7 linked regions of the Homo sapiens genome follow. The protein of the gene in region 1 purifies or fractionates together with the protein of each later gene. This does not show direct contact. Each region holds a gene or a part of one and is shown in the gene's direction. Other genes may lie near its edges.

The links.
Region 2: the proteins of PPP2CA (region 1) and PPFIA3 purify together in Homo sapiens (affinity purification with mass spectrometry; 4 studies listed by BioGRID and IntAct, with this or other methods). This does not show direct contact.
Region 3: the proteins of PPP2CA (region 1) and AXIN1 purify together in Homo sapiens (affinity purification with western blotting; 4 studies listed by BioGRID and IntAct, with this or other methods). This does not show direct contact.
Region 4: the proteins of PPP2CA (region 1) and PPP2R2B purify together in Homo sapiens (affinity purification with mass spectrometry; 4 studies listed by BioGRID and IntAct, with this or other methods). This does not show direct contact.
Region 5: the proteins of PPP2CA (region 1) and SLMAP purify together in Homo sapiens (affinity purification with mass spectrometry; 5 studies listed by BioGRID and IntAct, with this or other methods). This does not show direct contact.
Region 6: the proteins of PPP2CA (region 1) and INTS1 purify together in Homo sapiens (affinity purification with mass spectrometry; 5 studies listed by BioGRID and IntAct, with this or other methods). This does not show direct contact.
Region 7: the proteins of PPP2CA (region 1) and PPP2R2D purify together in Homo sapiens (affinity purification with mass spectrometry; 9 studies listed by BioGRID and IntAct, with this or other methods). This does not show direct contact.

The regions. Positions count from the first base shown.
Region 1 is NC_000005.10:134,202,074-134,205,729, reverse strand, and holds part of PPP2CA (serine/threonine-protein phosphatase 2A catalytic subunit alpha isoform), read left to right. Parts: intron 1-3,656. UniProt on the Homo sapiens protein: Catalytic subunit of protein phosphatase 2A (PP2A), a serine/threonine phosphatase involved in the regulation of a wide variety of enzymes, signal transduction pathways, and cellular events.
Region 2 is NC_000019.10:49,139,698-49,143,882, forward strand, and holds part of PPFIA3 (liprin-alpha-3), read left to right. Parts: coding exon 1-134; intron 135-263; coding exon 264-391; intron 392-1,722; coding exon 1,723-1,816; intron 1,817-2,336; coding exon 2,337-2,418; intron 2,419-3,106; coding exon 3,107-3,307; intron 3,308-4,185. UniProt on the Homo sapiens protein: May regulate the disassembly of focal adhesions. May localize receptor-like tyrosine phosphatases type 2A at specific sites on the plasma membrane, possibly regulating their interaction with the extracellular environment and their association with substrates.
Region 3 is NC_000016.10:286,764-290,840, reverse strand, and holds the end of AXIN1 (axin-1), read left to right. Parts: intron 1-1,233; coding exon 1,234-1,401; intron 1,402-2,592; coding exon 2,593-2,719; 3' UTR 2,720-3,401; downstream 3,402-4,077. Other genes in the region: PDIA2 (protein disulfide-isomerase A2 precursor), read right to left, coding at 3,728-3,772, 3,896-4,006. UniProt on the Homo sapiens protein: Component of the beta-catenin destruction complex required for regulating CTNNB1 levels through phosphorylation and ubiquitination, and modulating Wnt-signaling.
Region 4 is NC_000005.10:146,588,331-146,592,515, reverse strand, and holds part of PPP2R2B (serine/threonine-protein phosphatase 2A 55 kDa regulatory subunit B beta isoform), read left to right. Parts: intron 1-2,289; coding exon 2,290-2,569; 3' UTR 2,570-4,185. UniProt on the Homo sapiens protein: The B regulatory subunit might modulate substrate selectivity and catalytic activity, and might also direct the localization of the catalytic enzyme to a particular subcellular compartment.
Region 5 is NC_000003.12:57,762,452-57,766,636, forward strand, and holds part of SLMAP (sarcolemmal membrane-associated protein), read left to right. Parts: intron 1-4,185. UniProt on the Homo sapiens protein: Associates with the striatin-interacting phosphatase and kinase (STRIPAK) core complex, forming the extended (SIKE1:SLMAP)STRIPAK complex.
Region 6 is NC_000007.14:1,494,189-1,498,373, reverse strand, and holds part of INTS1 (integrator complex subunit 1), read left to right. Parts: intron 1-1,059; coding exon 1,060-1,236; intron 1,237-2,109; coding exon 2,110-2,218; intron 2,219-2,820; coding exon 2,821-2,941; intron 2,942-3,480; coding exon 3,481-3,558; intron 3,559-4,185. UniProt on the Homo sapiens protein: Component of the integrator complex, a multiprotein complex that terminates RNA polymerase II (Pol II) transcription in the promoter-proximal region of genes.
Region 7 is NC_000010.11:131,938,806-131,942,990, forward strand, and holds part of PPP2R2D (serine/threonine-protein phosphatase 2A 55 kDa regulatory subunit B delta isoform), read left to right. Parts: intron 1-1,225; coding exon 1,226-1,391; intron 1,392-1,776; coding exon 1,777-1,889; intron 1,890-1,962; exon of another isoform or gene 1,963-1,987; intron 1,988-4,185. UniProt on the Homo sapiens protein: Substrate-recognition subunit of protein phosphatase 2A (PP2A) that plays a key role in cell cycle by controlling mitosis entry and exit. Involved in chromosome clustering during late mitosis by mediating dephosphorylation of MKI67.

The DNA.
Region 1 (3,656 bases):
ACAAAAGGAGGAGAATGAATGCCTCAGTCAGATTGTTTGAAAAAATAGGCTGGGCGTGATGGCTTATGCCTGTAATCCCAGCACTTTGGGACGCTGAGGTAGGCAGATCACCTGAGGTCAGGAGTTCGAGACCAGCCTGGAGAACATGGTGAAGCCCCATCTCTACTAAAAGTACAAAAAACTAGCCGGGGGTGGTGGCGGGTGCCTGTAATCCCAGCTACTCTGGAGCCTGAGGCAGGAGAATTGCTTGAACCTGGGAGGCGGAGGTTGCAGTGAGCTGAGATTGCGCCACTACACGCCAGCCTGGACAACAGAGCGAGACTGTCTCAAAAAAAAAAAAAGGAAAAGAAAAATGTTAGAGGGCTGGTCAAATAGATATTTTAGTTCAGTAAATTGGGGTATGGAGAGGTAATATAATTAGATTTGTGTTTTTAGATACTTTTGAAGTATTATAAATATATAAACATACCAAATGTCAAAATGTTTTAAATCAGCTGGTCACGGTGGCTCGTGGCTATAATCCCAGCACTTTGGGAGGACAGGACAAAGTGAGCATATTGCTTGAGTCCAAGAGTTTGTGACCAGCCTGGGCAACATAGTGAGACCTTGTCTACAAAAAAATAATAATAATTAACCGAGTGTGGTGGCACAGGCCTGTAGTCCCAGCTACTCAGGCTGAGGTGGGCAGAGTTGCCTGAGCCCAGGAGGTCGTGGCTGCAATGAGACTTGATCTTGCCACCCTACACTCTAACTTGGGGAACAATGAGACCCTGTCTCAAAAAAAAAAAAAAATATCGAGGAAGAAGTTCAAGAAAAAAAAGAATTTTTCTGAGAAATTCAAGAAAACATTTGCTGTAAATATTTAACAGAGAATATTATGTACATTACATACATTATGTATGTACATATGGTTTAGCTCAGTTGAATAGTTTCCAGCCATTAACCATGACAGTAATAATCTAGACTAGGCTGGGTGCAGTGGTTCACGCCTGTTATCTCAACACTTTGGGAGGCTGGGGAAGGCGGGAAGGATCACTTGAGTCCAGGAGTTTAAGAACAGCGTAGTCAACATAAACCCCATCTCTACAAAAAGTTAAAAAAAATAGCCAGGTGCAGTGGTGCATGCTTGTAGTCTCAGCTACTCAGGAAGCTGAGGTGGGAGGATCACTTGAACCTGGGAGGTCAAGGCTACAGTGAGCCATGATGCACCACTGCACTCCAGCCGTGTGACAGAGCAAGACCCCTGTGTCTTTAAAAAACAAAAATCTAGAATGGTAGAAATGATAACCGAAAAAAGCAAGTTCCAAAATTACATGCATTACATGCCAATTGTAGCTTTGCAAAGTGTACTGATGATGATCTGAACATGAAGCAAAAGATGGTAAAGAGCTGTTAGGGTGGCAGGCTTCCGCCTTTCCCTTTAAATAAATTGTTTGACTTTACCTTTACCCAAAAATCTTGGGGAGATTTTTTCCCCCCTAGGCAACAGACTGATTTTTATTATTAAAGAATATTCAAAATGATAAATGGCTGTCACAGACTTTCCTAATATTAGAGAAGCAGTGAGATGTGGTTTTAGCGTGAGCTGAATTTTCTTGATTAATATCTGAATTGTGTAAAGTCCTACGAAATATTTTTGGAGATCGTTATTTTCTGCATCTGTAAAATGAAGGAGTTGGACTAGATGGTGGAAGGTTTCTGCGGTGACTCCAAATACTATGAAAAGAGCTAACCTGTGCTAAAAACCCAGGATGAATCCCAGTGCTCAGAGGAATGAATGTGCTACCTTTAAGAGTATGCAAGCAGCCTGGGCAACCTAGTGAGACCCCATCTCTTCAGAAAACAATTTTAGCCAGACATGGTGACATGTGCTGTAGTCCTAGCCACTCTGGAGGCTGAGGTGGGAGGATTGCTTGAGCCTAGGAATTTCAGGCTGCGGTGAGCTACTCCACTGCATTTGAGCCTGGGCGACAGAGTGAGATCCTATCTGGGGGGAAAAAAACTTACTCATGGAGGTTAATGGGCTGAATTGTAGCCCCCAAAATTCATTTGTCTAAGTCCTAACCCACAGCACCTCAGAATGTGACTGTATTTGGACAGGTAATTAAGGTAAAGTGGGGTCACATGGTTGGACCCTAATCCAGTGTAAGTGGTATCCTTATTAGAGATTAGGACACAGATGGGGAGAAGATAAGACAGATGGAGAAGATGAGCATCCATAAATCAAGGAGAGAGGCCATCAGAAGAAACCAACTGTGCTGACACCTTGATCTTGGACTTCTGCCTCTGGAACAGTGAGGAAGTAAATTTCTGTTGTTTAAGCCACCTATTCTCTGATGCTTTGTTGTGGCAGCCTTAGCAAAAGAATACCGGGGGAAAGGATGTTTCTTTCAGTAAATGGTGCTGAAGCAAATGGATCAGAATGTATCATAGAACTAAATGTAAGAGCTAAAGCTACAAAACTTCTAGAATAAATCAGAAAATCTTTGTCAGGTTAGTTAAAGATTCTTAGATATAACAAAAGCACAGTCCATAAAAAATTGAAAAATCGGACTTTATCAAAATTAAGATTATGTTTTTTCAAAAGATGACACCAGAAAAAAAGTACTTGTATTCAGATATTTAAAAAAAAAAAACTTTTACAGCTCAATAACAAGACAGATAATTGTAAAATGGGCAAAATATTTGAATAGATATTTTACCCAAGAAGATGATACATGAGTGGTCAGTGAGCACATGAAAAGATGCTTGATATCAATTGTAATCAGGGAAATGCAAATTAAAGTAACTGAGTTACTACTTCACATCTATTAGAATGGCTGTAATCAGTAAGGTTGATAATACCAAGTGTTGGTTAATACCGGAGATTAAACTCTTCATGCATTGCTGGTGGGAATATAACATGGTCTAGCTACTTTGAAAAACAGTTTGACTGTTTCTCAAAAAGTTAAACGTTACCAGGTGATCCAACAATTATATTCTTAGGAATCTTCCTAAAAGAAATGAAAGCATATGTCCACAGAAAAACTTCCATGTATATGATTATAGCAACATTATTCATAGTAGCCAAAAACCTCAGTAACATAATTGCCAGTTCATCTTAACTGTGAATAGAGAAACAAAAAATGGTATAGCCATACAGTGAAGGACTGTGCAACTATGAAAAGGAACAAACCACTGATCTATGCCAGAACATGGGTGAGCCTCAAAAATATTCTAAGTGATATTTAGCCAAAAGACTACATTTTGTATTCCATTTATATGACATTTCTAGAAAAGACAAACTCAAGACAGTAAATCAGTGGTTGCCAGGAGCTGGAGTGGGAGTGGAGAGTGACTGCAGGAGGGATCTTTTTGGGATAATGGAAAGGTTCTAAAACTGGATTGTGGTGATTGTTGCATAACTATAAATTTGTGAAAAATTACTGAACCGTAAAGTAATTTATGGGGTTTTAATAGCCCATTGATTTATGTTTGGTATAAAGTTGGTGGTAGAGGGAGTTTGATTTTAGTTGAGATGAGGTGGGCAAACACCCCATGGGCATTTAAAAATTCTGTAGAGCTGTGGTTTTGGTTCACTATGATATGAGGATGTGTGCTGTTTTTTCAACAAAATTGTAACTGCATTTTTTTCTATAGAAAGTTTCTTGAATTTT
Region 2 (4,185 bases), on another chromosome or scaffold:
CCACGAGGGGAGGGGCCGGCCATCCCAGGAGACACCCCACCACCCACTCCCCGCTCTGCCCGTCTTGAGAGAATGACCCAGGCCTTGGCACTGCAGGCGGGGTCCCTGGAAGATGGGGGACCCCCACGGGGAAGGTCAGCAGGGACAAGGGATAGGGACAGGGAGAAGCTGGCTTGGGAAGATGAGAAGGGGGTGGACAAGGACTTGGGAGGAGAGGGGGCATCTCAGCAAGCATATGCTCTCATTCTCTCCTGCTTTCCCAGTGAGGGCACCCCAGATTCTCTGCACAAAGCCCCCAAGAAGAAGAGCATCAAGTCATCCATAGGCCGTCTCTTTGGCAAGAAAGAGAAGGGACGAATGGGACCCCCAGGCCGGGACAGCTCTTCTCTGGGTGAGTACCTCACTCTAACCCTTCCCTCCTTTGTTCCTTCCTCCCTTCCTCCCTCCCTTTCTTTCTTCTTTGTATGTTCATTTGACATCCATTCATGTCTTCATTCATTTGGTGATTTATTTAGAATTTGGAAGGAACACAGCTTGCCAAGGTAGGCGGGAGGAGGAGGGAAAAGGAAAGGGCACTCTGGGACCTGCTTGGGTGACTGGGTAGGTAAAGGAATTTATTTCCTTTACTTATTTTTTTGTTGTTTTTTGGTTTTTGTTGTTGTTGTTTTGAGATGGAGTTTCACTCTGTCACCCAGGCTGGAGTGCAGTGGCAACGATCTTGGCTCACTGGAACCTCTACCTCCTGGGTTCAAGCGATTCTCCTGCCTCGGCCTCTTGAGCAGCTGGGACTATAGGCGCCCGCCACTATGCCTGGCTAATTTTTTTGTATTTTTAGTAGAGATAGGGTTTCCTCATGTTGGCCAGGCTGGTCTTGAACTCCTGACCTCAGATGATCCACCCACCTCGGCCTCCCAAAGTGCTGGGATTACAGACTCATTTACCTTTTTTTTTTTTTTTTTTTTTTTTTTTTGTTTGGAGACGGAGTCTTGCTCTGTCGCCCAGGCTGGAGTGCAGTGGTGCTATCTCGGCTCACTGCAAGCTCCGCCTCCCAGGTTCATGCCATTCTCCTGCCTCAGCCTCCCCAGTAGCTGGGACTACAGGCGCCCACCACCACGCCCGGCTAACTTTTTGTATTTTCAGTAGAGATGGGGTTTCACCGTGTTAGCCAGGATGGTCTTGATCTCCTGACCTTGTGATCTGCCTGCCTCAGCCTCCCAAAGTGCTGGGATTACAGGTGTGAGCCACCGTGCCCAGCCACCTATTTTTTAAACAGAGGAAGAGGGTGGGGCATCCTCAAAGCAGGGCACCTTCCTGTGGTGTGCTGGAGCCCGCTGGCACTGGCTCAGGAGATCCGCTATTTCAGGAATTGGCTGACATCACACTGGTAGCTTGAAATTGGCCATGGTGGGATTATTTACACCATGGAAATGGGCAAATGCTACAAATCAGGGATTCCCTTCTGCCTCCCCAAGGAGCCGGTTGTTAGGCATTTACCAGCATACAACTGCCACCTTACCAAGGGCATCCCAGTGCATCCAGCCGTATTTTGGGGATGACTCCAATTCATGGGCGCTTGTCTGCCTTTATCACTTCCTCGATGTGCCCTCACTCACTACTCCCTCAGGGCCTCTGCCTTTCCGGCATTTTCCTCATCACCTCCAGCATGAAAGATTCTGCCTCCCCCTTGAGATTTTCCAAATTTCGACCCCTCCCTGCCTCCAGCTGGAACACCCTCAGATGAGACACTGGCCACTGACCCTCTGGGGCTAGCCAAGCTGACAGGCCCAGGAGACAAGGACCGAAGGAACAAGAGGAAGTGAGTGTGTGTGAGTGTGAGCGTGTGTGTGTGTATGTGAATGTGAGAGTGTGTGAGGGTGTGTGTGTGCGTGTATGTGTGTGTATGAGTGTGTGTGTGTGTGAGAGGGTGTGTGAGTGTGTGTGTGCAGCGGTGGTGGTGGTGAACAGAAATGGGAATTCAATGCTGGGAGGAGGTGTCCGTGATCCTGAACTTGCTTGCCTGGAAACCCAGGAGCTCCTAGAGTTTTTATTTTTTCTTTCTTTTTTTAAAAATTTTTTTTGTATTTTTTACATTTATATTATATTTTTTGTTTCTTTTGTTTTTCTTATTTTGTTCTCTCTTTTGATAGGGGTTGGGGGGAGAGGATTTACAGATTCACATGTATTTTTTGACCTTCTGCCGTGTTTTGTACATTCATAAAAGCTGCGTGTGCGTATGTGCATGTGTGTGTGTGTGTATGTGTGCTGATGGGGGCCATCCACAGAGCAGGGGGTCTCCATCCCTGACAGCTTCTATCCTGGCCCCTTCACCCTTACAGGCATGAACTCCTGGAGGAGGCCTGCCGCCAGGGCCTACCTTTTGCTGCCTGGGACGGGCCCACCGTGGTGTCCTGGCTGGAGGTACTGGGGCCCAGAAATGCCCTGACTGTTGGTCCCCAACCCCTCTGACAGCCCCACTGGTAGGGGCTGCCTGGTCCTCCTGGCGCACCCTGCTTCTAGCCCAGAGGTGGGGGTGGCCATGGGCCTGGCAGGTGAGGACCCAGGAGGGCTCGGGCTTCCTGTTCACCTAAACAGTTTCTTTCTCCTTCTCCTTCTGCCCCTGCCACTCTGGCCTTGCCCACCTGGGTCATGGTCTCCTGTCGTTCTCTCTACTCTCTCTTTCTGGATTCTCTGTCTCTATTTTTCGGCACCATTCCCATCTCTGACCACGCTTTTGTCATTCCCCATATTTCTCCTCATGTCTCCGATCGCCCTGCCGATGTCTCCCTGTCTCCGGCTTCCTGTCTCTCCCCACCCTCTATTTCTCTCTCTCTATTTCTTTCTCTCTCTCTCTCTTTCTCTCTCCCTCTCCCTCTTCCCCCACCCGCCCCCCGCCCCCCGTTTCTCTCCCTATTTGTCTCCCTCGGACTCTCCCTCATCTCGTCCACGTCTCTTTTCCTTGTCCTGTTTCTTCTCCTTGCGAACTTTCCCACGTCTCTGTTTCGCTCCCCACCCCCTTGCCTTTCCCCACCTCCCTGTTCCCCCATCTCTCCGATTTTCTCCTCCTCTGTCCCTCTGTCCCCTCTGTCCCTCTGTCCCTCCGCTGCAGCTGTGGGTGGGCATGCCTGCCTGGTATGTGGCCGCCTGCCGGGCCAATGTCAAGAGCGGTGCCATCATGGCCAACCTGTCAGACACGGAGATCCAGCGCGAGATCGGCATCAGCAACCCGCTGCACCGACTCAAGCTACGCCTCGCCATCCAGGAGATGGTCTCGCTCACCTCGCCCTCAGCCCCCGCCTCCTCCCGCACTGTGAGTGTCCGGCGGCCAATTCCAGCCTTCGCTTCCTCAGAGCCCCGCCTCTTGCCCTCAGTCTAGCCAATCCTGGGCCTGCTCACTCCCCTGTCCCACGACCCTGCTTCTCATTGGCTTTTACCCCCCTCAGCCTCCCCTCCACTCCTAACTTGGCCTGTGGTCCGTCCCTGTGGTACTCCAGGAGGGGCCCAGGCCACCTCCTTCCCTGACTCTCTCCCTCTCCTCGGCATTTGCTGTCCCACTCAAATGTCACCACCTCTAAGAAGCTTTCTTTGTCAGCTAAACGAGTTTCCCCATCATTCCGGCATATCAGCACCTTCTAATTTTCCCCATAGCATTTATTGCCTTCTAATTATTTTATCTTTTCTTTCCTTTTTTTTTGGAGACAGAGTTTCGCTCTTGTTGTCCAGGCTGGAGTGCAATGGCGCTATCTCCGCTCACTGCAACCCCTGCCTCCCGGGTTCAAGCCATTCTCCTGTCTCAGCCTCCTGAGTAGCTGGGATTACAGGCGCCCGCCACCACGCCCAGTTAATTTTTGTATTTTTAGTAGAGACAGGGTTTTGACACGTTGGCCAGACTGGTCTTGAACTCCCGACCTCAGGTGATCCGCCCGCCTCGGCCTCCCAAAGTGTTGAGATTACAGGCGTGAGCCCCTACGCCTGGCCCTCGTTCCAACTTTTGATTACGAGACATTTCAAACATACAGAAAATCATGTGTACCCAGTTCAGCGATTCTCAAACTTTTGCTGTACTTGCTCTGTTGTGTGTGTGGGGTGGAGGCGGGGAGTGGGGAGTACAGGTTGAGTGTCCCTTACTTGAAATACGTGGGACCAGAAGTGTTTAGAATTTCTGATTTTAAAAAGTTTTTTTTGAAT
Region 3 (4,077 bases), on another chromosome or scaffold:
CCAGGCCTGACTTGACCAGGCTCGGGGCTGCAGGTGCTGAGGTGCCCGGGGTGCGTCTGCTTGCAGTGTGGGTCTCAGCCATGCGTGTCTGTCCAGCCCGTGCAGTCAGTGAGTCGGGGCTCTGCTCCCACCTACAATGCTGACTGCTCTGAACCCGTGAGAAAGGGCTCAGACCATGTGATCCCACATGGGCCGTGTCGACGGCGCCTTTATGTGCTCAAGGTGGCAGGAGGAGGGGGCACACCCCAAAAGGGGCCTTGAGAACAAGGGTCCCCCAGGCCTTGCCAGGCTTGCCCCAGATGCAGGTTTGTTGTGGCCCTCATCGTGTAGGCGGTCTTGGGGCAGCCTTCACCTGTCCCTGGGGCAGCCCCCACGTGTTGGCTCTTCTCTGATGGGCCTGGCTCCAGGAGGCTCCGAGGATGTGGCACTGGGAGGACGTCTAAGAGCGCACGTGGCTGGGGGCCTGGTGTGCAAAGAGGATGGTCACATGGCTCAGGTGGCCATGAGGCCTTCCTGCCCTGGTGTTGGCTCTGGAAGCCTCTGGTGCACCCAGCCAGGAGGAGGCCCAAGGGCTGAACCCCAGTGGGCCAGGGGCAGCTTCTGGAGTCACTTGAAGGACAGGTGGCGGCGGGGTAGCCGAGTGGGGGGTGCGAGAGCAACCAGGCCCCGCCCGTCATCCCGGCACGGCTGTGGAAGCACAGCACCTGTCAGAGGAGGGCCCGGCTCAGCCTGGGCAGGAGACGGTGCCAGCCCTGCCCCCTCTGAAGGGCCTGCTGGCCACCCCCGCCCCAGTCCTCCGACAAACTTCGCTGCGGGGTCAGGCTTATCCAGAAATCGTGCACAGTTCTGTTTGTCCAATCCCTGCCCTTCAGATGTTTTTAAGGTTTGGGGGCCGTAGGTCTTCCTGAGATAGGAGCCCTGCAGCCTGCCCTGCCATCCTAGAGGTGGGAGCTGCAGTGCACCTGGCAGCCAGGCCCTGGCCAGTCGAGGGTGGGGCTGTGAGGCAGCAGGGAGACCTTCGTGCTCCCAGTGAGCGGAGCCGACTCCACTGCTAGCGGACTAGATCCCAGATTGAGATGCTGTGCGGGGGCTGCGGGCCCCAGGTGTTTGAATGGGGTGCTGCTCACCCCTGCAGGCCTGCCCCGCCTTACACTGGCAGCCTGAGGCCAGCAGGAGGGACCCTGTGGGACCTCAGTCCAAAACCAGGTACCACCGCTGCATCTCTTTCCCCAGGACAAGATCGCAGAGGAAGGTGGGCGGCGGGAGTGCCCAGCCGTGTGACAGCATCGTTGTGGCGTACTACTTCTGCGGGGAACCCATCCCCTACCGCACCCTGGTGAGGGGCCGCGCTGTCACCCTGGGCCAGTTCAAGGAGCTGCTGACCAAAAAGGGCAGCTACAGGTGAGTGTGAGGGCTGGGGTGCCCCCTCCCCGCACGAGTATGTGGGTGCCCAACGGTATGAAAAAGAGGGTTTCCAGCCGGGCACAGTGGCTCACGTCCTAATCCTGGCACTTTGGGAGGCTGAGGTGGGCGGATTGCCTCAGCTCAGCAGTTCGAGACCAGCCTGGGCAACATGGTGAAACCCCGTCTCTACTAAAAATACTAAAGAAATTAGCCAGGTGTGCTACTTGGGAGGCTGAGGCAGAATTGCTTGAACTCGGGAGGCAGAGGTTGCAGTGAGCTGAGATCACGCCACTGCTCTCCAGCCTGGGTGACAGAGCGAGACTCTGTCTCTACCCCCGCCCAAAAAAAAAAAAAGAAGAAAAAGGGCTTCCGGCCATTTCAGCTCATGTCCCTCATCTGCAACTAAAGCCACTTCTCCAAGCCCTAGGCTGAGGGTGGCATCAGGCTTTCGGCCCCACAGGACTGAGAGGGTCCAAAGGGACCCCCGTCCAGGGCCCTCATCTTCGGGGTGGGAAAACAGAGGCCAGACCCCTAGACGACGATGGTCTGAACCTTGTGTTAGGCTCCCCTAGGCCGACCTTGTCTCCAGGCTCTGGACTCATGTGCTTTTGCCTGACTGAAAAGCCAAGCCCCCTCCTACCAAGGTTCATTCGCCCTGGGCCACTCAGCCCTGCAGGGCCCTGCGTGCAGCCAGCCTTGGAGGCTCCCGAGTGAGCACTGGGCGGTGAGCAGAGGGGGCCTGACCCCAAGAGCCTGGCAGAGCCTGGCGGGTGGTTCCCACCGTCCACAAGCCACTGTGCAAACACCCCATGACTGCAGATGTGGTGCTGAGGGAGGGCCCCAGTTGGGGTCACCTCCATGACGGGGCTCAGCCCTTGGGAAGCAGACACCCCACACCCGTCCACTTCCCCCCTGCAACTCCTGAGAGGCTGGGGCAGGTACTCCCAGGGGGATGTGGGGTGCTCCCAGCAGGCAGTGAACTCACCCCCCATGGCTGCCCACTTCACCCACATGTGGTCATTGCACTGTTCACTGTTGCCCTGGGAGGGGGCGCACATGCAGTGGGGGCCGTGGGGCATGGACAGGAGGCTCCTCGGGATGGGGTGTGGACACGCCGTCCCCTGCCACAGGCCTCCTTCCCATCTGCGGTGCTGCCTGCTCACTGCCCTCCTCACCTCCGTCCTGCAGATACTACTTCAAGAAAGTGAGCGACGAGTTTGACTGTGGGGTGGTGTTTGAGGAGGTTCGAGAGGACGAGGCCGTCCTGCCCGTCTTTGAGGAGAAGATCATCGGCAAAGTGGAGAAGGTGGACTGATAGGCTGGTGGGCTGGCCGCTGTGCCAGGCGAGGCCCTTGGCGGGCACGGGTGTCACGGCCAGGCAGATGACCTCGTACTCAGGAGCCCGATGGGGAACAGTGTTGGGTGTACCACCCATCCCTGTGGTCTACCCGTGTCTAGAGGCAGGTAGGGGGTCCCTCCAAGTGGTCCACAAGCTTCTGTCCTGCCCCCAAGGAGGCAGCCTGGACCACTCCTCATAGCAATACTTGGAGGGCCCAGCCCAAGTGAGGCAGCCGAGGTCCCTGCTGCCAGCTTCAGGTGACCCCCCCCCATCCCCCGGCACCTCCCTTGGGCACGTGTGCTGGGATCTACTTTCCCTCTGGGATTTGCCCACGTACCCAGGTCTGGGTGGGGCCCAGGCCCGGATGCAGAGGCCTGCAGGGCCTCTGTCAATTGTACGCGCCACCGAGTGCCTTCAACACAGCTTGTCTCTTGCCTGCCACTGTGTGAATCGGCGACGGAGCACTGCACCTGCCTCCAGCCGCCGGCTGTGCAGTCCTGGGTCCTCCTTTCTGAGGGCCCGTGTAAATATGTACATTTCTCAGGCTAGGCCAGCAGGGGCTGCCCGAGTCTGTTTTTCATGCGATGACACTTGTACAATTAATTATCTTTTCAAAGGTACTTGGATAATAATGAAATAAAACTGTTTTTGAACCTGCCCTGGCTGTGGTGTGTCTTCTGCGGGTGGGGCCTGGCCTAGGTCTCCCAGCCTCAGCCCCCGTGGTAAAGGAGGGCACACTGGCCTCCAGCAGGCATGGGGATCACCTGTGACTCAGAGGCTGGCAGGGCTAGAGCAGGAACGTGCTCCACCTTCCTGCCCTGGAGCCCCCAGCTGGGCAGAGCTGCATCAGGCCAGCCTTGCTGAGGGACCAGGCACACAGAGTCCAGAACCAAGCTCACTCTTTATTCACAATGCACAGCTCCCTCTGGTACCCAAGGGGGTGGCTCCTGTCCAGCAGTGATGGCGGGGGTGACACGGGGGCAGCTACAGTTCCTCCTTGGACCCCATAGTGGAGTTGGCCGGTGGCTCCTAGAAAGGGTCACAAGTGCAGCTCGAAGCTCTGCTCCCAGCCTACCCCTGCCCCCGCCCCTGCCAGCCCTGTGTAAAGAGGATTTGTGCAGAGGCCTGGAGCCCTGGCTTAGGGACACCCACCGGGAACGGGGCTGCTGGCTCCTCCGGGGGCTCCTCCGTGGGCAGCACGCCCCCGTTGTCCAGGAACTTGGAGAAAGTCTCCAGGTCCCTGGTGCTTTTGTATTCAATCACCTGAGAAGAGGCAGGGGGATCTGGAGGACACGTGGGGCCCAGCCCCATGCCCAGCAAGATGGCACCCCGGC
Region 4 (4,185 bases), about 12 Mb from region 1:
ATTCCCTCAAAGTGATTTATTACTATTTTAAGGCCTTTGATTTGAACAGTGCTTCATAATACCTCCCAATAGTTCATTTTTAGTTTGACAAATACAAATGATTCTCTGATTTCCATGAGAACTAAGTGCAAGCTACCAGGGGCTGATTTCGTTCCTTGATGAAGGTGGCACCAATAATAGTGTTTGAAAGCATAGAAATTCTGTTATGGCAAGACATTCAGAGATTCAAGCTTTCAGTGAATATGAACTGTCTCTCTCTCACACTCCACCTGTTTCTTGGCTTTCTTTGCCACTGATCCAAAATGAATCCCCTCCTTAGCAGGCTTGGAAGGAGTCTCCACGTGGCAAAGGACCCAAGTCACACTGACCAGTTGGTATAGGACAGAGAGCAAAGCAACTGTGACATAAGAACAAAATCCACCATGGGAAAAAGAAGCCAGCCCTCTCATTTTATTATTTATTTATAGGTATTTATTTATTCATATATTATTATTTACATATCTGTTATTATTGCTCAAGTTTTTCCTCTATCTTAGCCTTGATTCAAAAATTACACTTATTAGGCACCTACTATATACCAAACACATTCGTACACATCATTTTATTTAATCCCAACCACAGTCTAACAAGATTGCTTCCATCGTTCTCATTTTACAGTTAAGGAAACTGAGGCTTAGCAAGATAAAGTAATCTGCCCAACCTCATAAAGTAGTAAGTAGTAGAGACAAAAGTAACAAGTTTAGAGTTTGAATCCTAAGATCAACACTCTTTCTATAACATCACAACTGGGAAGTTTAATTTCTCTTTCAGATAAGGTTGGTAGTCTTTTTTTTTTTTTTTTTGGAAAATAATCTCTTACTTGTTTAAAAATAAGTCGGGTCATGGTGGGCAAGCAAACGTCAAAGTATGGGAAGCAGTGAGGCCAACCGGCTGAATACTTATGCCCCAGAGTCAACCATATGTGGGTTTGAGGGTGGACTTTACCACCAATTAGCAATGTGACACTGAGCAAATTACTTCTCTGTAAAACCCTTTTAGGGGATAATAGAAGTTGAAACGAGATCATGGAGGCAAAGCCCTCAGCGCCCTGCCTGACAAGGTGATAACAGTCCACTCGAGTACACAGACACAGTTCACAGTATCAGTTTGATGAGCCAGAGTAACAAAATCTAACCTTTGCTTAATTTACCTGGTACAGGTGACAACGTGCCCAAAAACACATCCCCCTTGCTGTGGCCCAATCTTGTCAGCTTTTTCCTTCACCTCTCTACACATCCCAAATCATTTGAGAAATACACGAGAGTTCCTGCTCTCCCATCTTAAGGAGCCAGTCAGAGCTCCACCCAGAAATGAGTAGGAGCCCCCCACTCCAGGGGAACCACCGTGTGATGGCACTTGGGGTACTTGCCCTGGCCCAAGGAATCTCTCCCTCCCCACCTCAGCTTGTCACCGTGTCTGAAATGTCACCATTAAACATTCAGTACCTTGCCTCTGGAAGACATTGGGTGTTTGCCACTCTCCTGATCGATTGCAGCTATGCCTAAGAGGGGATAACTTATAAAAATGTGGAAACCATCTGTCCATTAAGTGTGGGAAAAAAACCATATAAAATCTTTTTATTTCTCCATCCCAGATTCTTTTAAAATTTGAATTTCCTTACTTGTTTCCTAGATAAGACCATGATGACATCCATTTCGTAGATAAGTTTTCTAAAAAGGCCGAATTCAGAGCTAGTTCTCGGCAGGGGAGAGGTCGCGCCCCGGGTTCGTGCACGATGCCACTAGCATCTCTCCCCTCACTGCACTGATGCCATGAAGCCTTAGAGGCCAGACGGCCCAGGAACCCTGTTGACAGTGGCCAAACCTTAAACACGTACAACTGCTTATTGTTTTCAAAAGTGTGTCTACTTCGACAAACCTCATTCTAGTCTCACATTCCTGATGGGAGGTAGGTAGGACTGGGATCATTAAAACCAGTGGACACCTTTTCTGAGCCAAAGAAGCAAAAAGAATCTATTGAGCAAAAGCAAATTACAAGGAGAGTTCTCACCATCCCTCATTTCCAAACCCAGCCAAAAATCCTATTGCTTTCAGTGATTCAAAAAAAAAAAAAAAAAACACAAAAAAAAAACAAAAAGCCAATAATCACACTGCAGAGCCTGTTCTCATTTTTTGGTTTTTGTTTTTAATAAAACCTATGGTGTCATAAGCTGGCCATAACATGGTATCATTTGCTCCAAAAAGAAAAGACAGTGAAGATATGTCATTGCCTTTGCTCTCTGCCTTGCAGTGTCATCATGACAGGCTCCTACAACAACTTCTTCAGGATGTTCGACAGAAACACCAAGCGTGATGTGACCCTTGAGGCTTCGAGGGAAAACAGCAAGCCCCGGGCTATCCTCAAACCCCGAAAAGTGTGTGTGGGGGGCAAGCGGAGAAAAGACGAGATCAGTGTCGACAGTCTGGACTTTAGCAAAAAGATCTTGCATACAGCTTGGCATCCTTCAGAAAATATTATAGCAGTGGCGGCTACAAATAACCTATATATATTCCAGGACAAGGTTAACTAGGTGGACAAGTTATTACTTAATAATCTCACATACTGAATACTAGTCAAACAAGTTTTTAAATGTTTCTTTGGGTCTTCATTTGATGCATTGACTTTAATTTCCCTATACAGGAAATGATTGGAATAGAATTAAAAGGAGTCCAACATTCCCAGCTCCCCAGTTCTAAGAAACTTTTGTCAAACCCAATAGGTTTGGGACACTTCTGTTTAGAATTGAAAGCTGCCAGCTAACAGTAATTCTTCCATAGTTGACTTGAACTTCTGATGCTTTTATTGCCCAGTTTTCTCTGGTGGGTCCAGTGTTTTGTTCCTAGGTGTCTGCTGCGATAAAATGAGGTTGTCTGTAGTATTTAAGGAGAAAAGAGATAAGTTTTTTTTAATTAAGCAATTCCATTTGATTGAAAAAAATCAACAAAAAATAAACACCGTTTACTCTTAGACAAATTCTTCTTGTTTTGTGAAAAACCAGAACTAGTCAGTATCTCCTGCCCCTCCACCATTTTTTTTTCCATTTTCCATTTTCCTTTGAACAATTTCATTTAAGCCAGAGATTTATTGCATGAAGCTGAGAAGAGGATGCAGAATGACAAGGAAAGGGCACATCAACCCTGCTATGCTCTTTTTTTGTAAGCTCCATAGAAACAGCCTGAGAATTTGGCTAGGGAACTTGAATGCTTCAGGGGACAGAAAGAGAGCACTTTCGACACAGTGCTTCCCAGAGTGAGCTTGGCAGGGCCAGGCGGGGCCAAATTCCATCTGCTGCCTTGTTACTCTTGCTTTTTGTGCTCTTAAATGGCTCCATATAATCTTCTACTTACATGTTCCTTGGCTTTTTTCTCTTCAACCTTTTCCAGCTTATTTATTCCATTGACTTCTAAAGGCCGAGTCCTGGGTGCTTATTATCTGGTGTTCTAAATGAAGCAGTAAGTTGGAAGCAGTGCCACCACCCCTGAGTCCCTGAGAAAGGCTGGTCTGTTCTTTTTGGGTGTTTCTCCTAAGCAGCACCCTCCCCTCCTCCTGGTTTTGGTAACCAAAAGTAACAATCCATCAACCTCCATTGTACCTAGAACAAAAATAGCCAATAAAAACGCTGAGTTGTGAAGTCCAATCAGGCACTTCTAACTCACCCCAAGCTCGCCATCTGGAAAAACAGACCAGAAGGCTCTCTTCTACAGAAATGAACTGTGGGGAAATCAAGCAGCTGTGACATGAAGTGAATGAAGTCCACTTGAAGCTGTGGAAGATGGTTCATCCTTTTCCCCAGTTGAGGATCCAGATTTATAACTTCTAGAAAGCCATTTCCAGAAGGTTCTATGTGGCACACCCCTAGGAAAGGCACTAAATGCATGCAAAGGATTTATAAACTTAGGAAAGTAGATGGGTGGAGTCCAGAAAACTGGTTCTGGGTTAATATCTCTACATCTGTCTTGATGACTCATTTCTCCTAACTCCCATTTAGTGCAGGGTAAATGGTTTGAGATGAGAGTTTTTCAATGAAAGGGAAATTTTCTTTCAGTTTACAGATGTATTAGAAGTCCTGACTTTCAAGTGTAATTTGCTTTGGAGGAGGAAAAAATAGTGAAAGAATCATTTTATCTCAATTCTAAGCTACTATCC
Region 5 (4,185 bases), on another chromosome or scaffold:
CTGCAAAATGTAGGCAGGTGGAAATCTAAGTGACACTTTTTAATGCTAAGCTCATGGAATATCTTATTGTATAATACTTAAATCTGCATGTTGAAGGGTGACAGGTTTGGCACAAAGCAGAGTTTCATAATCTTTACCAAATCATCTTCTCAGTAATGTAGCAGTTGGATATTGCCTTGTTGGATGCTGGCCCTGTGTATTATCCTTCATCCTTTTCGGAAGTCAAGCTCTTCAAATTAGATGGCAGATAGTAGAATGGTTTTTTTTTTTTTTTTTTTTTTTGAGCCGGAGTCTTGCCCTGTCTCCCAGGCTGGAGTGCAGTGGCGCAATCTCGGCTCACTGCAACCTCTCCCTCCTGGGTTCAAGTGATTCTTCTGCCTCAGCTTCCCAAGTAGCTGGGATTACAGGCATGAGCCACCATGCCCAGATGCCTGGCTAATTTTTTGTATTTTTAGTAGAGACAGGGTTTCACCATTTGGCCACGCTGGTCATGAACTCCTGACCTCAGGTGATCTGCCTGCCTCGGCCTCCCAAAGTGCTAGGATTACAAGTGTGAGCCACGGTGCCCAGCCTAGAATGGTTATTAATTCCTCTGTTGATTCAAGGCACCACTGAGCAAGCAGATCTACCCATATAGTGGTTACATAGAAAGGATAGTGAGTGAACTCTTGTGATTTGGATGGCCCTATTTGATTTGAGGCTTTGGGGTACCGGTGACATGCTAGTGGTTGACATAGTAGTCTATTTCCAGTTTCACTGAAGTTTACTTACTAGTGGTAGTAGTTGTCTACTTCTAGTCTCACGTTTAATTTAAACTTAGTGCATCTTTTTTTTTTTTTTTGAGATGGAGTCTCGCTCTGTCACTCAGGCTGGAGTGCAATGGTGTGATCTCGGCTCACTGCAACCTCTGCCTCCTGGGTTCAAGCAATTCTCTTGTCTCAGCTTCCTGAGTAGCTGGGATTATAGGCACACACTACCACGCCCAGCTACTGTTTTTTATTTTAGTAGAAACGGGGTTTCACCATGTTGCACAAGCTGGTCTCGAACTCCTGAGCTTAGGCAATCCACCCGCCCCGGCCTCCTAAAGAGTTAGGATTACAGGTGTGAGCCACCGCGCCCGGCCTAGTGCATCTTTTTGAGCACCTGTTCTATCATGATTTGTTTTAGTGAAGGGCATAGTGGTAAAGGGGGAGAAAATGACAAACTGATGAGGATTTGTTATTTCTTCTTTCTAGGAACTTTTACATTGGATAGAGAGGGTGACAGTGCACTTTGAAAATAGTTGAGATAGGTGATATTATGTAAGTTTCAATGGCAAAAGAATAATGACATTTGACTTTAAAATTAGGGGTGGATAGATAAGAAAAGGTGTTTTTTTGGTTATTTTTATTTTTTTTGTGGGGATGAGGATGGAATAAAAAGCAGATAATTTTGAATGAGCTTTGCATTTTCCAAATGCTGAGGAAACTGACTTTGTTGGATTAGAGAGTTCTTTGAAGAGTAGCCAAGGGTGCACATCTATTCTGTGTGATGTTCTTGTTTGTGCCTTGTCTTTGTAATTAATTTTCACACTCTGGAAGACAGGAACGTTTTCCTACTATCTTGTATAAAGTAGTTGTTGAATAAATGAAGCTGACTAGATAGTGTGGTGCCAGGTTGTGAAGTGCCTTGCTTACCAAGCTTAGGATGTGGACCCTTGGGTTATGGAAGGCCTACGAGAGTTCTGAGCAGAGCACTGACATACCAAACCCCTGTTTAAGAAAGAGTGGGCCGGGTGCGGTGGCTCACACCTGTAATCCCAGCACTTTGGGAGGCCGAGATGGGTGGATCACCTGAGGTCAGGAGTTTGAGACCAGCCTGGCCAACATGGTGAAACCCCACCTCTACGAAAAATACAAAAATTAACCAAGTGTGGTGGCATGAACCTGAAATCCCAGCTACTTGTGAGGCTGAGGCAGGATAATCACTTGAACCCAGGAAGCGGAGGTTGCAGTGAGCAGAGATCCCATCTTTGCACTCCAACATGGGCAACAGAGGGAGACTGCATCTCAAAAAAAAAAAGAAAAGAAAAGAAAGAAAGAGTGATACAATAGTGATACAATAGCAGTATGTAGAGTTGCCTGGAGCAAGGAAAAATGGGTAACAGCTTAAATAACACTTTTGTACTAACTATATACTGGGCCCTATTCTAAATGCTTTACTTGTTAACTTATTTAATCTTCAAGTAACTCTTTGAGGTGCTTGTTTTTTCTGCATTGACCTGTGAGGAAATTGAGGCACAGAGAGATCTTGGTCAAGTTCACCTAGCTATTAAATGGTAGAATTGAGATTTAAACTCAAGCTCATAACCACTGTGCTATTCTAAAGGCTTTATAACACTTTAGATATGATGTGATTTTGTGAGGGCATAGACCAGGTTAACAGTAGGAATGAAAATGATTAAATGCCAGAAAATGAAAAAAGATAAGAGTATTAAATTAACTTGCACATTAGGACTTCGGCAAAGCGCAAGGTCCTGTGTGAACTGAAGACTTTAGGGAAAGTTTAATGGATGAAACAGTTTCATGGATGAAATCCAATTTAAACTAGACCTTAGGACTTTTAAAAAGAGGAAGAATGGCCAGGAACAGTGGCAAATGCCTGTAATATCAGCTACTTGGGAGGCTGAGTCTGGAAGATTGCTTGAGGCCAGGAGTTTGAGGCTGTAGTATGCCAAAATTGCACCTGTGAAAATCCACTGCACTGCAGCCTTTGCATCATAGCAATAATTTGTCTCTAAAAAACAAAAAGTTCAAAAACTTGTATTTGCCAGGGGTGCATCAGGTCTGTAGCCCCACCTATTTGGGAGGATGAAACAGGAGGATCACTTAGGCCAGGAGTTCAAGGCTATAGTGCACTATGATTGCTCTAGCCTGGGTGACATAGTGAGACCCATCTTAAAAAAAAATATGGGGTTAAGGGATAGATTGTAGTTAGGGTCAGTCAGGGAAAGGAGTTTTGGGTGGGAGGAAGAAGCAGGGATGATACGGCATGTTCCAAGGACATTGTAAGGAAGACATTGTGAAGAGCCTGCTGAATTTGACAACCAAGATTGTTTCTTCTTTTTTCCTCCACACATCTAAACATGACCACAAAGATCCTAGCCTCAGCTTTTGGGAGAATGGCAGGTCATACATTCTTTTACTTTTTATTTGTTTGTATGTTTGTTTTAACAGATACTTAAGTTTTTTGTTGACAGAAGTATAAAGATCATTAAGGGGTGCTGGTGTTTGTGAGAAAGTCTTTTACTTGACAAGTTGTATTTAAGACACATAATGTGAACATGTATAGGAAGCCAGATTATATCTTTAAAGCACATGTTCATTTCCCTCTATATTATTTTTCATAATAGTGGGAAATTGATAAAATATTTTATCTGTGATTTCAAATTGTTAAAAATATCGACAGTGTATATACTTAAAGCATTTTTTTTCCCACTTAGTTCTTTGACATTACTCCTTAGGTTAAATTCACTCTTTGCCCTTTTAGGCTTCTGTCTGATTTTCTTTCTTTTTTTTTTTTTTTTGAGACGGAGTCTTGCTCTGTTGCCCAGGCTGGAATACAGTGGCGCGATCTCGGCTCATTGTAAGCTCCGCCTCCCGGGTTCACGCCATTCTCCTGTCTCAGCCTCCTGAGTAGCTGGGACTACAGGCGCCTACCACCACACCCGGCTAATTTTTTTTTTTTTTTTTTTTTTTTGTATTTTTAGTAGAGACAGGGTTTCACCGTGTTAGCCAGGATGGTCTCGATTTCCTGACCTCGTGATCCGCCTGCCTCAGCCTCCCAAAGTGCTGGGATTACAGGCGTGAGCCACCACACCCAGTCTACCTGTCTGGTTTTCTTAAGTGATATTTCTGCTAGAGCTTAGTATTTATTCTTTTTGGTAAGTAGGGAAGAGAATGTCATTTAGAGTTTTAAGTGAAAAGATTGTGAAGTTAACTCTTAATATATGTCAGTTACTTCATAGTTACTTGAATCAAGAAAAATGGTGGCATTTATTAGCGGCTGAAACGTTCTAAGTTTACAGTCCAGACTCTTTCCTCTTCTCAGGTACATGCTTCTCTTACTGACACTATATAGGTAGATAAATAGTTACACCTTTGCTTAAAAATCTTTGACGTTGCCTCATTAATTTTTAGCATTAAA
Region 6 (4,185 bases), on another chromosome or scaffold:
ATATGGGGCTCTGGGCTGGAGGGGCACGTGGCGTCTGGGGAGGCCGGTGGATTGGCAGTGCTTCGTGGGAGAATGCTCCTCGGTCTCGGGAAGGAGCTTTTGAAACTCACGTGGGCATGAGGTTGAGCCGTTTCTAGAGTGGGTGCAGCCACAGCGCCCAGCGTCTTTCTCAGAAACTGACACTCTGTCCATTTAGGAGGGAGCCACATTGAGTCTTAAAAGCCACCCAGGTTTCTGAGCTAAGACCCAGACCTGTTGCCTTCTGTTTTTATTTTTCAAGCTCATTCCTGCCTTTGGATAGTAAGGTAGTTTTTAAAAATTTTGTGGAGACCGGGTCTTATTATGTGGCCCAGGCTGGTCTCAAACTCCTGGGCTCAAGCGATCCTCCTGCCTCAACCTCCCAAAGTGCTGGGATGACAGGCATGAGCCCCTGTGCCTGGCCCAGACCCGCCTCCTGTGCATTGGGTCCCTCGGTTAAGCAGGGGTCCCTGTAGCCCTGGCTGTAGGACCCTTGGATTTCCGTGTCTCCTTTGAAGCGGGCTCGGGAGATGCTCCCATCGCCACCAGCGCATTAGGCCTCCCGGTGGGCTCTATGGAGTGTGAAACACGAGGGAGGCACAGCCGCTCTCAGCTCCGCGTTCAGTCTTCGCGGCCTGGCATTTTGAGACAGGAGTGCGTCCTTTCAGATCCTTTCAGATCTTGGGTGGTGGCCTTTGGTTTCCGTTCAGCCCGTGGCGCACGGGTGGGCTGAGATGGCACACGCGCTTCTATGGCTTTGCCGCCTGGTGTCCCGCACCCCCAGCTTCCGTTAATTAATCCTCCTCATTTCACGAGGACCGACTCCCCACCTGCCGGTTCTCAGAGAGGGGAATCAGATGTGATCCCTGCTCGCCAAGGGCTGGCAGCCAGTAGAGCAAGGAGCCCGCCACCCCGCACCCCACACTGTCTGAGACCCACTGCAGCGCCCTCGGGCGCCATACCTGTTGGTGCTGCGGGAAGGGGCCTGTGACAGGGACAGCACTGTCGGGCAGCCTCCCACGCGGCCTCTCTCTGCCCCAGTTCCTGGCCATGGTGTTCCAGGACCTGCTGACCAACAAGGACGACTACCTGCGGGCCTCGCGGGCCCTGCTGCGGGAGATCATCAAGCAGACCAAGCACGAGATCAACTTCCAGGCCTTCTGCCTGGGGCTCATGCAGGAGCGCAAGGAGCCGCAGTACCTGGAGATGGAGTTCAAGGTGCCAGCCCTCGCCGCTGGGGCGCCTTTCCCTCACTGCGGGTTCCACGCGCCGCCATCCCCCTCGTCCTGGGTCCCATGCACACTCCACCCCTTCGGATGCTCTGGCTGAGCGTGGGTACGGGGATGAGTGAGGCTGTTTGCGGTGACGCGTCCCAGAGGGTAGCATAGGCTCTGTCCTGTGTGAGGACCTATGAGGGGCTGACCAAGCACAGGGGAACTGGCAACCCCTAGGCTGGATGGGATGAATTGCTGCCGGCAGCAAGGGGAGCACGGGAGCAGGGAGGCAGGGTGGGGCTGCGGGCTGCCTGGCTGGGTTGGAGACTTTTCGAGGGCTGTGGAGGGAGCTGGCGCTGGAAGGCACAGTGAGGGTGGATCACAGAGATGCCAGGTCCCTGCAGCCAACTCGCAGCCAGCCTGCCGGGGTGGCCTGTTTTGCGGACGGGGCTTTGTGGATCTCTGTTGACTGAACCTCCCTCCTGTGGCCAGACTAGGACCTTGTGGGCCACCGGCCCTGGTGCCCCTCCTGTCAGGCCCCTCTCCCAACTGGTCCTGGGCTCTCTCTCTGGATCCCTGCTTGTGTGTGTGTATGTGTGCGCATGTGCAAGTGTGTGCGTGCTGCACCCACGTGTTTGTGGAGTGGGGCTCCCGGGTGTCCCTTCTGGATACAGACCCCGTGCCGCGCCCACGTGGGTGTGGAGTGGGGCTCCCGGGTGTCCCTTCTGGATACAGACCCCGTGCCGCGCCCACGTGGGTGTGGAGTGGGGCTCCCGGGTGTCCCTTCTGGATACAGACCCCGTGCCGCGCCCACGTGGGTGTGGAGTGGGGCTCCCGGGTGTCCCTTCTGGATACAGACCCCGTGCTGCACCTGCAGGAGCGCTTCGTGGTGCACATCACCGACGTCCTGGCCGTGTCCATGATGCTGGGCATCACAGCGCAGGTGAAGGAGGCCGGCATCGCCTGGGACAAAGGAGAAAAGAGGAGTAAGGATGTGGGGGTGGCCTGGCCCTGCTTGGTGGGGGTCTCGGGTCCAGGCTGGTGGCTGGCGGCTCTCCGAGGCTGCACTGTCCCCTGAGCGCCCGGCAGGAGCGGTCCCGCAGCACGGCTACTCGGGGACACGGAGCCTGGAAGCTGCCGTCCCCGTTCCTGTCCATCCGGGCCTCACCCCAGCTGCAGGCTCAGACCCTGTTCCCATGAGCGTCCTTTGTGTGCTCCAGTTCTGGCCCAGCATGGGGGCATTGCAGGCGTGGTGGCCCCAGCCACGGGCGGGAGTGGGGAGGGGAGGTGGTGTTTGGGGCAGTCCGGGTGTTTGATTATGGGTTCACAGGAAGGCTGGGCCGCAGAAGCCCTCTAAGCCATTGACCGGAGCGAGTCACTCGGAACAGGAGGATTCCAGTCACCCACGCACGCGTCAGGGTCACTCCATGCCTCCCAGGGTGTTATTCCAGCTGGGAATCGTCCAGAAGCTGGGGGTGCCCTGAGTTACCCCCTCCCAAGTGCCAGCATTGAGTTGGACCCCCAGGGGTGCCTTAGCCCCTCATGGCCCATGGCTCGGATGGGCCACTAAGCTGCGTGTCTGTTTCAGACCTGGAAGTGCTCCGCTCATTCCAGAACCAGATTGCCGCCATCCAGCGGGATGCCGTCTGGTGGCTCCACACTGTGGTCCCCTCCATCAGCAAGCTCGCCCCTAAGGACTACGTGCACTGGTGCGGCTGGGGCCCTGTACAGCCCCTGTCCCACACCCCACTGAGCCGGGACAAGCCGGGGCCCCGCACAACCCCTGCCCCAAACCCCACTGAGCCAGGACAAGCCAGGCCCCGCACAGCCCCTGCCCCACACCCCACTAAGCCGGGACAAGCCAGGCCCCCACACGGGAGTCTGTCCCCTCTCTGCGGACAGCAGCAGCCGTTAGGCTCCAGGCAGGTCACCCTGTGCATTGGAGCCTCCCGTGGAGCCTCTGCCTTGGTTGGGGTGGGGCTGCCAGGCTGGGGCTGCATTTCTCTGCAGCGATTTTGTAAAGGGCTGTCCAGCCCGGCAGCCCCGTTCGGCCGCTGTGCAGCCTGGCAGCCCCGTGAGTGGTCCCTGGGTTCTTTGGTGGTGCTGTGAGGAGGTGCTGAGCTTGGGCACCAGGCAGCCCGGCCTCTGAGCGCTGGGGCCCGTGGGAGCGGGGTCCCTTCCCTGGAACTAACGGGGCTGGTCCCTGAGCACCCACATCATGACTGAGGGCTCTTCTCTGCCTGCCCAGCCTGCACAAGGTGCTGTTCACAGAGCAGCCGGAGACCTACTACAAGTGGGACAACTGGCCACCCGAGAGTGACCGCAAGTGAGTGCGCTGCCGCCTGGGGCTCCTGTGTGCCGGGCTGGGCGGGGCTGCGGGGTGCCGGGCCGGCTGCGGCAGGAAGGGCCAGTGGGAGTTGGGCGGCTGTTCCCATGGTCACAGCACCATCCTGCTCCTCCTCCACAATCCTGGGTGCCACCCTTCTCCCACTCCCATGCTGGCGTCCCAGCGCCACTGTAGGGATTCAGCTGCCGTCTGCGTCCACGTGACTCCAAGCCCCAGCCGCAGCCTCCCCCGGACCCCCGCCTTCCAGTTGCTTCCAGGGCGTCCACGGGCACGCCACCCTTCACGCAGTCTCAGATGCACCGTCTGCCCCTGCTTCTGTCCAGACAGCCGCACACTGTCCTTCCCCAGCCGGCTGGCCTCACAGCTCTGTCCCCCTTCAAGCCCCATGGGTGACCCCGTGGGTTCTTGGTCTACACTCCCCTCCAGCCCCGCCTGGGGCTCCTGCCAGTTCACCCTGCCCCCACCTCGTGCCCTGGGCGCTCTGTTCACCTTCACTGCGGCCTTCCGGTCAGGCTTTGGAGGTGTAGGGGTTATCTCTGTCTCCTGGCCCCCAGCTCCTTGAGGGCAAGAACCATCTAGAGGCCTCTGTGGGGTGGCAGAGTCTCC
Region 7 (4,185 bases), on another chromosome or scaffold:
TTGGCATATGTGTGGCGTCTGGTTCACTACCACTGTGTTGGAGCTGCCACATCGCTGTGTCACGCTCCTCAGGCCCGTGCTGGCTCTCCTCTAGAGCAGACTCAGCAGACACTTTCTCTCCAGGGCCAGATTGCAAACATTTTTGCCTCTATAGCTCATGCGGCCTTTTCACAACCACTCACCTCTACCCAGATGGTGCAGAAGCAGCCAGAGACAGTATGTGCACACATGGGCCTGACTGTGTTCCACTAACACTTGCCTTAAATACGGCAGGCTGCATTCAGCAGACCTGCTCCAGAAAACACGGCAGGCTGCATTCGGCAGACCTGCTCCAGAAAACACGGCAGGCTGCATTCGGCAGACCTGCTCCAGAAAACACGGCAGGCTGCATTCGGCAGACCTGCTCCAGAAAACACGGCAGGCTGCATTCGGCAGACCTGCTCCAGAAAACACGGCAGGCTGCATTCGGCAGACCTGCTCCAGAAAACACGGCAGGCTGCATTCGGCAGACCTGCTCCAGAAAACACGGCAGGCTGCATTCGGCAGACCTGCTCCAGAAAACACGGCAGGCTGCATTCGGCAGACCTGCTCCAGAAAACACGGCAGGCTGCATTCGGCAGACCTGCTCCAGAAAACACGGCAGGCTGCATTCGGCAGACCTGCTCCAGAAAACACGGCAGGCTGCATTCGGCAGACCTGCTCCAGAAAACACGGCAGGCTGCATTCGGCAGACCTGCTCCAGAAAATACGGCAGGCTGTATTTGGCAGACCTGCTCCAGAGAACACGGCAGGCTGCGTTTGGCAGACCTGCTTCAGAAAATACGGCAGGCTGCATTCAGCAGACCTGCTCCAGAAAACACAGCAGGCTACATTCGACAGGCTGAATTCGGCAGACCTGCTCCAGAAAATACGGCAGGCTGCATTCGGCAGGCCTGCTTCAGAAAATACGGCAGGCTGCATTTGACAGACCTGCTCCAGAAAATACAGCAAGGCTGCATTCGGCAGACCTGCTCCAGATGCATACCTAGAAGTGGAGTCGAAGAGTCGGAAATCAAGTTCGTTCTTTTTTTTTTTTTTTTCCCTGAGTTTCATCTGAGATTTTTTTGAGCCAGGATTTTTTAGCTTTAAAAAATATGTATGGTCATTTGATATTCAAATTTATAGTACTGAAATTTTCTCTACACTGTGCTTTGTTCATTAAAACAGCTCTCATGTTTCCTTGCAGAATAAAAGCCGCCCTCATTCTAGGGGAGAATATAATGTTTACAGCACCTTTCAAAGTCATGAACCGGAGTTTGACTATTTGAAAAGTCTAGAAATTGAGGAAAAAATTAATAAAATTAGGTGGTTACCACAACAGAATGCTGCTCATTTTCTACTGTCTACAAATGGTAAGAATTGTGTTCTAAGTGGCTGTTTGATTTAGTTTTTTATTTTTAATTTTCTGTGTGTGTGTAGATTCCTTTTTATTTTAGAAGTTATTCCTGCTTTAAATTTTGGGGGGAGGGTAAGTTATCTAGGGTAGCAAGTGATAGGTTGAAAATTCAAAGTATGCAACAAAAACCACACGTGCACTTTATTATGCTGTTACTCTGCACGTCTGCACATCTTTCTTTATTGTACAAAACACCTCCAATTGGAAATATTCATGTTCAGAGACCCCATAGCTTATAACCCAATATAGGACCACACCGCTTTCTAATACCAGTACTCAAACAGTAGTGATGCATGTTATAGTTTTTCTTTTCATATGGAGAATGAGGTTTTTATTTTCAGATAAAACTATAAAATTATGGAAAATAAGTGAACGGGATAAAAGAGCAGAAGGTTATAACCTGAAAGACGAAGATGGAAGACTTCGAGACCCATTTAGGATCACGGCGCTACGGGTACACGTTGCCTTTGCTTTATCCAATGCTGTTGAGAAGTTAAGAATAAACGTTTCAGTCTGCTGTCTGGAGAGTGCTGCGCGGTGGAGTACTGTGAGGTCTGCTGTGAGGTCTGCCTCGTGATTCCTGAAAGTCGTTTGCACTCATGTGTGTGTTTAAAAGCAAGGTCTTTCTCCTGTTTTCACAAAGGCAGAAAGTCACATGTGGTCCTTAGGAAACACAGCAATACTAAGGGGAAAACTCATATTTAATTCTACAGCAGAAATCTTTGTGGACATAGCAACCACCCTTCTCTCAGAAGGTTCAGAACAGCACCTGGGAGGTTGGAGTTCAGATGAAATTCAGAACACCTCACAGGTGCAGTAGCACAGGTTGCAGGTCGAAAGATGAGCTGTGGGCCACAGGTACATTCAGGACGCTTCTCGGGGAATTTCTTTGGGGTTGGTTTAGGCAGATGCTGATGGTTCAGAACTCTCCACCTGTCCATCCATGAGCATCATTACTTTTTTAATTGTTAAATTATTTGCTCCATTGTTGGTAGTATGAAATGATCATATTTCATCAATTCTGATGCCTAAATTTTTTCATATTTTAACATTTATGAAACCGGCTAAAACTCAAAACCTCAATGTCTTATAATTGGCCTGGTGCTACGCACCACTGATGTTGTCTTAAATTAGATGGAACATGGTGAAGGGTGTCCGGCAAACTGGGCTCGAGCCCAGGTGTGTCTTGGTGAGAAACCAGCACCTGTGCAGAGGTGTGTCCCCTGGAAGGAAACTCTGCCTGGTCCCAAGGGGGTGCCGTTACTAGATTGGAAAACCGTTGGTTGTTTGGGTGGTTGGGTGGTTTGGTTGCGGGGGGTGGGTGGTTGAGTTGGGTGGTTTGGTTGGTTTTTAATGAGATTTCAGCCCCTTTTACACTATTGTTTATCAAGTGAAGACTGAGTGAGTGAGCCCATTCCACATTAGTCTTGGAGAGTGCTACAGAGGACGCTGTACCGCAGAAGCCTTTCCCTAACACATGTGCCTCTGGGAGTGATGTTGGGTCTGTTCTGATGCCATTTCTCCAGCTTTGCCGTGTGGGGTGGCTACACCTGGGGTTGTGCATTCCTCAGGAGGAGTGTCCTCAGACTTCTCACATCGATGTTGTCACCGTATTTCCTATGAGTTCATCAAAGCGAGAAAGGCTGTGGCATTTGCTGAAAATCTAGTTTATAGGGTCCTAATTTGAACCAAGATGTTTTGATCCAAAATGTTGGTGATGTCTGATACACAGTGCTGCCGCCTTTGCACCCCTGAATTAGTGTAAATCACTTTTAGTGACAGTAACACGAGTTGTGCAGTTCCATCATCATGAAACTGCTGATCCTAAAGTAGAAGTGTGATGGGACCCCCGAGGGTGGGCACTTGACCCCCTCCAGCCTTGTCCATCTCTTCTGCAGCCAACACCACCTCCCACCCAGTTACCTGTGCACACCCCACCCTCAGAAACCCCTGTTCCTCCTGATCAGACCCTGCCACAACCCATCAGCTCACGTGCTCATTTTGGGAGAACAGTAGGCCTTTACTAGGCCCAGTCTTGGTTTTATTCAAGGCTGCTTTTGTAGGTTTAGCCTAAATAAAACGGGTATAATTGGTGGCCCTACTGAAGGTGTGTGAGAAGTCTAGTTATTTCATTAGTTGGTGCATGGGGAAGAGACCACAGACAGGTAATTCTGTACATTGACTTAGGTCGGTATTTGAGATCTTACCTCTCTAACAGTTCAGAGTGGGCTATTTATGTATCTGAGCCTAACTGGGTAAGAGTCAGACATGTTGCTGTTTTTAAATTTTTGCTCTTAAATTATTTTAGTGCCAGAAAAGGGATATAATTAAAAGAAGAAATCTTGGCCAGGTATGGTGGCTCATACCTGTAATCCCAGCACTTTGGGAGACCGAGATGGGAGGATCACTTGAGCCCAGGAGTTCAAAGACCAGCCTGGGCAACATAGCCAGACCCCATCTCTAAAAATGAAAGCAAATTATTTTATATGCAAATTAAAATGTTTTCAATAAAAGAAGGAATCTTTGTAAGTATTGCAGCTATCATATGTTTTGATTAATGGGAAATTTGTTAGAGGATTGGGGTAGGTGTGTGTTTTTAAGCCTGAACTTGGTAGAACTGACTCTTCTTGCTCTAGAGAATCCAAGGGTGTGGTCAGCACTACCTGGGTTAAAATGAGGGAAGCCTCCCTACACACACTTTTCCAAGTTGGTTTTTTACAGAATTCAGCCAGACAAGACTCAGTTGAGAG